2 separate regions of the Homo sapiens genome follow, and region 2 is linked to region 1. Evidence: fine-mapped expression QTL. A gene starts in region 1. The other region holds a variant in brackets. All regions are shown on one strand. Distances are from middle to middle.

Region 1 (4,323 bases):
GCCTCGTCGCTGGGCCCCGCGCCGCTGCCGCCTCCGTCCGGGCTCTCGAAGATGTCGAGCGCCTCCTCGGCGTCGCGGTGCTGCCGGTAGGTCATCCAGCAGCAGGGTTCCACGTCGGTCTCGTCGATGCCCCAGAAGGTGAGCTCCTCTTCGAAGAGCGGCCCGCACACGTCCGCGGGGCAGTGCAGCTTGCCGGTGCGGTAGTAGTTGAGCACGTAGGCGAAGACGCCCGGGTGCCTGTCGAAGAAGAACTCGCAGCCCCCGCCGCCGCTGCTGCCGCTGCTACCCACACCGCCGCCATCGGTCTCGGGCCGGCCCCCGCCGTCGGGGTCGGCCAGCCAGGCGAGGCGGGTTCCCGGTAGGGTGCGCAGGGTGCTGCGGTAGGTCTCATGTCGCGTGCCGCCCACGTTGATGATGATCTTCTCCGACGCCTCGCCCTTGGCCATCTCCTCCTTCAGACATGTTTTGGACGGAGGCTTGTTCCCCGACTTGCGCCCGCGGTAGGAGGAGACACACACCGAGCTGATCATAAGAAGCGCTGCGGGGCTCCGGCTTGGGGCGGCCGCTGCCCTCCAAACACCCTTCCCGAGGAGGCAGCGTCAGACGGGGGAGGGGGAGGAGACGAAGAGGAGGCAGGAGGCGGTGGCGGCCCCCTCTGCGGCTTGGGCTTGCCCCTGCCTATCCCCCTAGGACGCGGAGCGGGAGGAGTTGGATTTCTCCGGTACACAGGTGGTTGGGGTTAGGGCAGGAAGCTCCGGAGAGAGGGAGGCGCAGAGAGGGAGGACCCGGGGAAGTAGAAGCAAGCACACACGCGGTCCCCCGCTACGACGGGACACACAAACGCTCTGGGCCGGGGACACGCCCCCGCCTTCACCCCGACCAAAGACGAGGAAGCGCACAGTCCACGCGCACCGCGAAGGTCCGGGGCGCTCGCGCTCACACGGGCCACCCTCCGGCTCCAAGACCGCACCAAGCCCCGGAATAGCCGGCTTCCCCGCAGCGGCGGCAGCGCAGCAGCAACAAGTCCTCCGAGCGGCTGCCGGGGCCAGGCCGACACTCTCACGGCAGCCGGAGCTCCGTGGGCCCGGGCTGCTTGCGGTCAACACGAGGCGGCGGCGGCGGCATGTGGCCTCTTCCCCCCATTCATAAATCCAGCGCCGGGCGAGGAAGGCAGGCGGGGCAGAGCAGAGAGCGGCGGCCGGGCGGGCGGGGGCTGCGCAGGGCGAGGCGGCAGCTGGAAAACAAGCGCGCCCGCAGGAGCGAGCCTCGGGTCCTGCGTCCGCGGCTGGGAGCTGCGCCGGACCGGGCGCAGCGCTGCGGGGGCCGCGCTGGGGCGGGGGTGCCTCAGACGGGGCGTCCTGCGCGGCGCCGAGCCTGGGGGGCGGGGCCGCTCTGGGGAGCCGGGCTCTGGGCACTGGCGAAGGTGTACCGGGGGCGGCGGCCGAGCGGCCAAGGACACCTGCAGGCTTCCCGGGCCGCGCGGAGAGGGAGCCTCAGCGCAACGCCCCGGCGCCTGGTTCCTGCGATCTGGCGGCGCTGGGAGCCACGCCATCTACGCGTCTGCCCATCTCCGGGCGGGGCGCCGGCCTTGGCTCGCGCGCGGCAGGGGGCGGGCGCGAGGTGGCATAGGGGAGGGGGCGCCTCGGCGCCGGTGGGCTGGGGCCCTAGGGGCTCATGGTCTCCCTCCGGCGCTGGCAGCGGCCGCCACGCCCCAGTGGCGCCTTTTCCTCCGGGGCCCCGCCTCGCCCAGACGCGCCCTTCGCGGGGCGGGGTGGGCGGGGCGCGGCGCAGCGCGGGGCCGATCCGACTCACTGCAGGCCCTGGCGACCGAGCGCAGTCTTCCTCCCCGGAGCCGAGCCCCAACCAAGCGCGTCACCTCCTCGCCGCCAGTGCCCAGCCCAGCGCGCCGCCCCTGCGCGCTTCCGCCGGCAACCCCTCCCGCCCCCCTCAGCCCTGCTCCGCGCCTCCCCCGGGCCCGCAGCTCCTCCCACCGCAGCCCGCTGACACCGAAGCGCTCTCGACCCCTGACCTCTAACCTCCGCCCGGCTCTTCTTGCTTCGTCCCTCGCCCCCTCCCCGCCAAGCTGGTCGCACTGTTGCCGTTTCACTGCGGCTGACGGAAGGCCAAGGAAGAAAGAGGGTAGAGACGCTGTCGCGAGGATCAGGCTGCCCTCTCCTTTCCCAGGGACCGTGTTGGGGCCTTCTGACCACCCCGCCCCGCATCCTGCGCCTCGGAGGCCCAACGTAGCCCAAGACACCCATGGTCTTGATGCTCTCCGCCTCTGTCCCAGCCACCAAAGTCCCCGCGATGGAATGGAGGACGGGGTGGCCTTGGGCAGAGAAGCGCTTCTTGTGCCGGATGGAAGGAAACCGTAGCTCTGGCTGTGTTCATCGCGAAATGTTTTATGGATGTGGAGTGGGTGGGTGGCCCTGAAAAGTCATTAGTTAAAGCCTTTGCTCGTCATTGCTCTGGGGTCCACATAGGAAATGCCCGTGTCCTGCCTCATGACCCCTTCCTGTTTCTACTCTTATTCTACCCATTACAATTTGACTTTGCCTGTGTATATGTCTCCTCTCCCCTCCCTAACCCTGAGCTCCTGCAGGCGGCATTGTGCTTTTTCATCTTGATAGCTCCCACAGTGCCTGCCTCTGAGAACCTGTTTGCTAAGTGATTGAGAAGCTGCCATACCCAAAACGTAGGCACCAACAGGACTTTACTGGCCCTATCCCAAGAGCAATTTCCAGATTCATTTGTTTTTGTTAAGTCCAGAACCTATTTTACATCTTCATATTAATCCCCATTGGGTTTTTTTTTCTTTTTTACAGCTTCAGGCAGCCTCCATGCCTGTCTGGATGATGTAAAGAGATCTTGAGGCAGAAATGAAAGGTGAATGACACACCTGCCCTGGACACCTGTGCACCTTCCCAGTTCCAGATCAGGCAGTACCTAGCTCAACTGAGAAAAACAAGACAAGGGCCTATGTGTGTCTCAGGAAAGGTTAAAAGCTCAGTGCCAATGCAAGGGATTTTTACAAGCAAAAGTCTCATTATTAATGAGGCCAGAAAACCAAAATGACAATGATCTTTGATGATCTGTACTGACACGCAGGGGAGGTGAGTTAATCAGAAACACACATTTACTGGCACCCCCTTTGTGCCCAGTCCCTGCTCCTCGAAACTGATGTTTGTATTTCAGAGTTTAGCTGTCTTTGAGTTTGCTGCAGTGAAAAGAAATATCCCAAGTGTGACTGGGAAGAGAAGACCCGGGACAGGCCAGAAACTGGAGTGAGGAAGAAAGAACCACAGAATATTAATGTAATGAATAACTTTCAAGTCCTATCTGGTCCGTGTCCTGGCAAAGTCCCTTGGGGTCTCTCCCCTGCTTTCCGTTCATCAGGATGACTGAGCTCAGTAATTGTAACAAAGGGAGTGTAGTAGGCAAGGGGACAAAACCCATAGTATCCCACCCCTGATTGACTTATTAACTCAATGAACACTTATTGAATACCTACGATATGCCAGAAGCAGTTCCGGGTACTGGAAATACATCAGTGAATAAAACAGCCACTCATCCTAGTAAATCTGCCCAACTGGTGCTTCCACTCTGCGGTGCTTGTGGATAGTGATGAGCACCTGGGGAGATGGGTAAAGGGAGAAAGCTGCCAGGGAAAAAGGAGGCCAAGAGGGAAGGGAGGAAGATCAGAAAGTTGGGACACAGGCATAGGAACCTAGGAAGAGCTGACAAAAACAGAGGGCCCAGCCTGAGAGAGGCAGCTGGGTAAAGGTGCATGGGGCCAGGACTCCCAGCTCTGTGCACTGACCAGCTCGGGAGAGGGGAGCTCAGCCTCAGTCCTGAGGCCTCCAGAGAATGCCTCACCCTTGCTGAAGGTTTATTCTAGAACTCTGGGCTCACCTGTTACGTGTACCTCTCTGAGGGAGTCGATATGCTGCAGTTAGCACTATGGGACTTGTCCCCATCATTTCTTTGTGTGAGGTCTTGGTGTTCCCTCAAAACACAGAGCCGGGGAAGGATAGGAGAGCCCCCTGCCCAGGCTACTGTGACACAGCCTACCATGGATGTGAGGGTGCTGCCCTCTGGTGGTGCTAGAACATCCTGGCTCCAGACCTCGCCCTGAGCTCTGGGGGCTGTGATGTGGGCAGATGGGGTGGCAGCTGATTCTGGGCTTCCTGTTGATTCCAGGACCTCAGGTACATCTTCTAGCCTAACTCTGCCATTGGGACTCTGCCTACTCCCTCCCTTCTTCATTCCTCCAAGACCTTGATACCTGACAGGCTTAAGCAAGACCACAAAGCAGCCACTATT
Region 2 (4,380 bases), 57 kb before region 1:
TGATAAACTGTGGTACATCCATACTTCAGAATACTACCTAGCAATGGACTACTGCTGCTTGCAACAACATGGCTGAGTCTCTCTGAGTGAAAGAAGCCAGACTCCAGATTTCATTTATGTAACATTCTGGGAAAGGCGAAACCAGAGGGGAGAAAAATAAAACCACCACAGATTAGATTGGTGGTTGTGAGAAGCTGGCGATGGGGGAAGTTGTTGGCTTTAAAGGTATATGAGAGAATGTTTTGGGGTGATGGAATTGTTCTGTATCTTGATTGTGGTGGTGGTTACTCAACTGACGTGTCTGTCAAAAATCTTGAGTTGTATTTTACTTGGTGTAAATTGCACTTTAATAAACCTGAATGAAAAAAACAAAATACCAGGCTACAGGAAGGCCCAGGGAGATTTGCTTTCTGAAAAGATGGCCCTGTCACAGACTGATGGGTTCTTCTTGCCTGCTGCCCTGAAGAAAACAATGAGAACAGCAGGTTGTTGCAGCAAAGAAAGAGCTTAATAATCTCAGGGTAGGCCGGGCGCGGTGGCTCACGCTTGTAATCCCAGTACTTTGGGAGGCCGAGGCGGGCGGATCACGAGGTCAGGAGATCGAGACCACGGTGAAACCCCGTCTCTACTAAAAATACAAAAAATTAGCCGGGCGTGGTGGCGGGCGCCTGTAGTCCCAGCTACTCAGAGAGGCTGAGGCAGGAGAATGGAGTGAACTCGGGAGGCGGAGCTTGCAGTGAGCCGAGATCGCGCCACTGCACTCCAGCCTGGGTGACACAGCGAGACTCCGTCTCAAAAAAAAAAAAAAATAAAATCTCAGGGCCAGCCACATGAGCAGAACGGGAGAAACTTCTCAAGCCTGTCTTCCCGAGAATTCCAAGGCTAGGGTTTCTTTTTTTTTCTTTTCTTTTCTTTTTTTTTTTTTTTTTCTTTTGAGACAGTCTCTTGCTCTGTCTCCCAGGCTGGAGTGCAGTGGCGCGATCTCGACTCACTGCAAACTCTGCCTCCCGGGTTCACGCCATTCTCCCGCCTCAGCCTCCGGAGTAGCTGGCACTACAGGCGCCCGCCACCACGCCTGGCTAATTTTTTGTATTTTATTAGAGATGGGGTTTCACCGTGTTAGCCAGGATGGTCTCGATCTCCTGACCTCGTGATCTGCCCGCCTCGGCCTCCCAAAGTGCTGGGATTACAGGCGTGAGCCACGGTACCCGGCCAAGGCTAGAGTTTCTTAAAGGCACTCTGGCAGCCAGGGGGCTGGAGAATTGAAACAATTGATTGACAGGGGATAAGATCACAGGGGTGTCTAAAGCTGCCTTTGTGCAGCTGAGTCAGGTACTGGGAGGGGGTCTCAAGACCAGGTGGCATCTATCTCTTGGTCTGCCAAAATGCCAAATCTGAAAAAAAATCTCAAAAATATCTCAGATACATATGGGGAAGTTCTTTAGGTTTCACAATAGTGATGTTATATAGGAATAGCTGGGGAAGTTATAAATCTTGTGACCCCTGCTTACATGACTCGGGGGTAGTAAAAAACTTCTAGAAAAGCATGCTAAGTCATGGCAGGTTATTGCTTAACTATGCCTATTCTTCAGCAAAGTTAGAGCCCTTACCATGATTCTAACCATGTATTACGAATGCGACTTCAATCTCTGAACAAGGAAGGGGCAGTTTTTCTGGCCTCAAAGTTTAACTGTAAACCAAATTCCTCTCATAGTTATATTGGCCTCCAGACTAGAATAAGCAAAAAACCAATTTAGCCTGTGAGGTTAGAAGCAAGATGGAGTCTGTCATGTTAGATTTCTCTCATTACTTATAATTCTGCAAAGGCGATTTCAGTCCCTTCCTGGTGGTGAGATACATAGGAAGTGGGGCAAGGAGGATTAAGAATGACAGAATGTAGAGGTTCGCATCTTGCTAAAAGGAACAGAATAAGATGATGGCTAAGGGCATAACCTAATCCTAAGAGAGGCTGAAATGAAGTTTTGCTGGCCAGGGAAGGAAGCAGGAGCCGGATTGTAAATGTACTTAGGAGTGTGTTCATGTGGGCGGTGGAGGCATTGGGGAGTGGTGCTATCTGGAATGTACGGATTCCAGAAGGACATGGAGGCAGCGGGGAATAAGGACGGGCCTCGTATCAGCTGAACTGAGGTGTG[T/A]GCAGCACAGCACTGAGCCAGAAATGTACTTAGAGCCTCAGAGTCTATTCATTCCCTTCAAAGAAAACCCCTAGACAGCAACTGCAGTATAAATAGCAAACAAGCAAGCACATGGTTCTTCTGCATCAGAATGGAGAAAAGACGTTGATCCTGAGCAACCTGGAGTCCAGCAGCAGCCCTCCTGGGCCCCAAACCTTCCCAGTGGCCTCCTCAGCTCTCAGAAAACCAGCACCTTTCTCCCCAGCAAAGCCCACCCTACACAGACTGCTGAGCCTCCCACAGCCAAACAAGTGATGAATAGCAGCCCTCTCCCCAAGGGTTCTGCCCACAGAGGCGTGCGGGCTGCTTGCTAAATGGAAGCTACAAGACCTCTGGGGCTGCTGCAGTTTGTTTTGCTGCAGGCCTCTTGGCAGATGGTGTTTGCTCAGCCTGCCCTGCAAGCCAAAGTGAGAAAGTGGGATGCTTCAAGAGAACTAACCAGGAGCTAAGAAGGAGACATCAGAAGGGGCAAACATCCCCATGACAATGGCACATCAAGGCACGGGGTCCTCGGGTCCGGGGAACACAGACTTTAGGTCTCTCCTGGTATTCGGGTCCCTTGGGGTACAGATGCCAAGACTTAAGGGGAAGAAATGGGGCCCATACAAAGAGCAAGGGGGCCAATCTGGATCAAGAATGGCAACAACAGCTGTGGCAGACTTATAGCTAGGAGCAGAGGCTGGAGCTAGGCTGGGTTCAAATCCCAGCCCTGCCACTTAAAGGTTCTGTGCCCTTGGGCAAGTCGTTTTACCTTTCCTCATTAGCAAAATGAGAATAGTAATAGTACCTACTTCCTAGGGTTGCTAGGGAGACTAAAGGAGTTATCCCATGTAAAGTGCTTAGAGCAAGCCTGGCTGTTCCTAAGGACTCAGTGAGGGTTACCAACAATGAATGACTGTTTCCAAAGGGTCTTCCAAAAACCTTGCAGAAATTCTTGCTGCTTCTCATTAGGAAAGTGATGTCCTGGGGCTGGATTTATTTGTGGGACCAGGTTTGTTCTGCACTCCAGCCCCTCCCCTCCTCACTCAGCCCTCCAGGGTGCAGTTTCGGTGTTGCGGCTATGAATGTTTCAATATCTGATCCTTTCAGTCAACTGAGACTCTCTCCCCATGCAACAGTGTTGGGATCTGGTTACCACAAAGCCAGTACTTGTGTCCCTGATCAGCCACTTAACTTGCTTCCCTGCCCATTATTTCTCCCCCTATTTCCAGAGCTGTCGGGGGAATTGGGTGAATTGTACTTAAGCAGAAGAATGCCTGCATCTATTAAATGCTCCACAGTGCCTCTTCTGCCTTCATGGAACTTCAAGAGGCAGTCCCCACCCTGTCCCTAGCTCTCTATGTGAAAAGGGAACAAGGCTACATGTATTTCTTTTGTATTCCTGCGGTGCTCTGAGGTTTAGTGTTATCACATGGTAGGCTGGGTCTATCTGTGCTGAAAGAATGAATGAATGAACAAATGACAAACAAGGTAGGAAGGTAGGTGCAACAAGTCACTTGGGAGGGTCAACAAAGGAACCAAGGGCCTCTCTGGGGCTGGAGCACCACCAGCCCAGTTTCTCCGTGTTTTCAGGAGGAGAGGGTCTAGTGCTGGGCAGGACCTACCCTGTCCTACCCACCTCCAAGGGCCTCTTCCCTGGCTCTGAGTTCCTCTTCGGGGCCCCAGAACAGGCTCCCTGGTGCTAAAATGGAAGATGATGACTATTGGGCCTTTCTCTCCAAACCAGAGATGGTTAACTTTTTGACATAAGTACTGTTGTAATGCAAGAAACTCAAGCAGCCCAGAGGAGTGCAGAGTTCCTCAGTGTTGCCTGGGAACAGGGGCCTGGATGACTTCTTGGGCAGCCCTCTCTAAAAGCTCCTTTGGGAGCCCTCTTCTAGCAGCCTAAAACCTGACTGCTAGGGGCCATCCTCTGGGTGGGGAATATTTTATTTTATTTTATTTTATTTTATTTTATTTTATTTTATTTTATTTTATTTTATTTTATTTTATTTATGTTTTATTTCTGCTGCTGGAAACTCAGGGAGCCTGAGAGTTCTACTGTTCACTCATCAGCCACTTGTAAACTTATTTTTCCGAGGCTTCTAGCCTAGGAAGAACCTGAACACTATAAACGAGATCTTTCTCTGAAGATGCTCAGAGTGTGGGGGAAGGGACAGGGTAAAAGAAGTTACTAGTATAGCATCAA

Which allele goes with the higher level. Alleles are on the strand shown, and positions count from the first base shown. SD is a standard deviation of normalised expression in the study named.
For the expression in spleen of the gene that starts at base 1,716 in region 1, T is the low allele of the variant in region 2 and A is the other (small effect, 0.34 SD a copy in GTEx).

The links. PIP is the estimated chance that this variant, and not a neighbour inherited with it, causes the effect.
Region 2: its variant is the best candidate, but not a certain one, in a credible set for the expression of KCNC4 in spleen (GTEx, PIP 0.56).

Annotation. Positions count from the first base shown.
Region 1 is chr1:110,207,707-110,212,029 of GRCh38, reverse strand. KCNC4 (potassium voltage-gated channel subfamily C member 4) reads right to left here and starts at 1,716. Exons shown (of 4, transcript NM_001039574.3): 1 at 1-1,716. The coding sequence starts at 530. KCNC4-DT (KCNC4 divergent transcript) reads left to right here and starts at 2,043. Exons shown (of 2, transcript NR_046546.1): 1 at 2,043-2,419; 2 at 2,826-3,580. RefSeq lists an enhancer at 1-119 and silencers at 1,357-2,036, 3,999-4,048, 4,059-4,118.
Region 2 is chr1:110,265,160-110,269,539 of GRCh38, reverse strand. It overlaps a transcript of KCNC4 not described here. Among named protein-coding and RNA genes, the nearest start is that of KCNC4, 57 kb to the right of the region's middle. The variant T/A (reference allele first, on the strand shown) is at 2,154.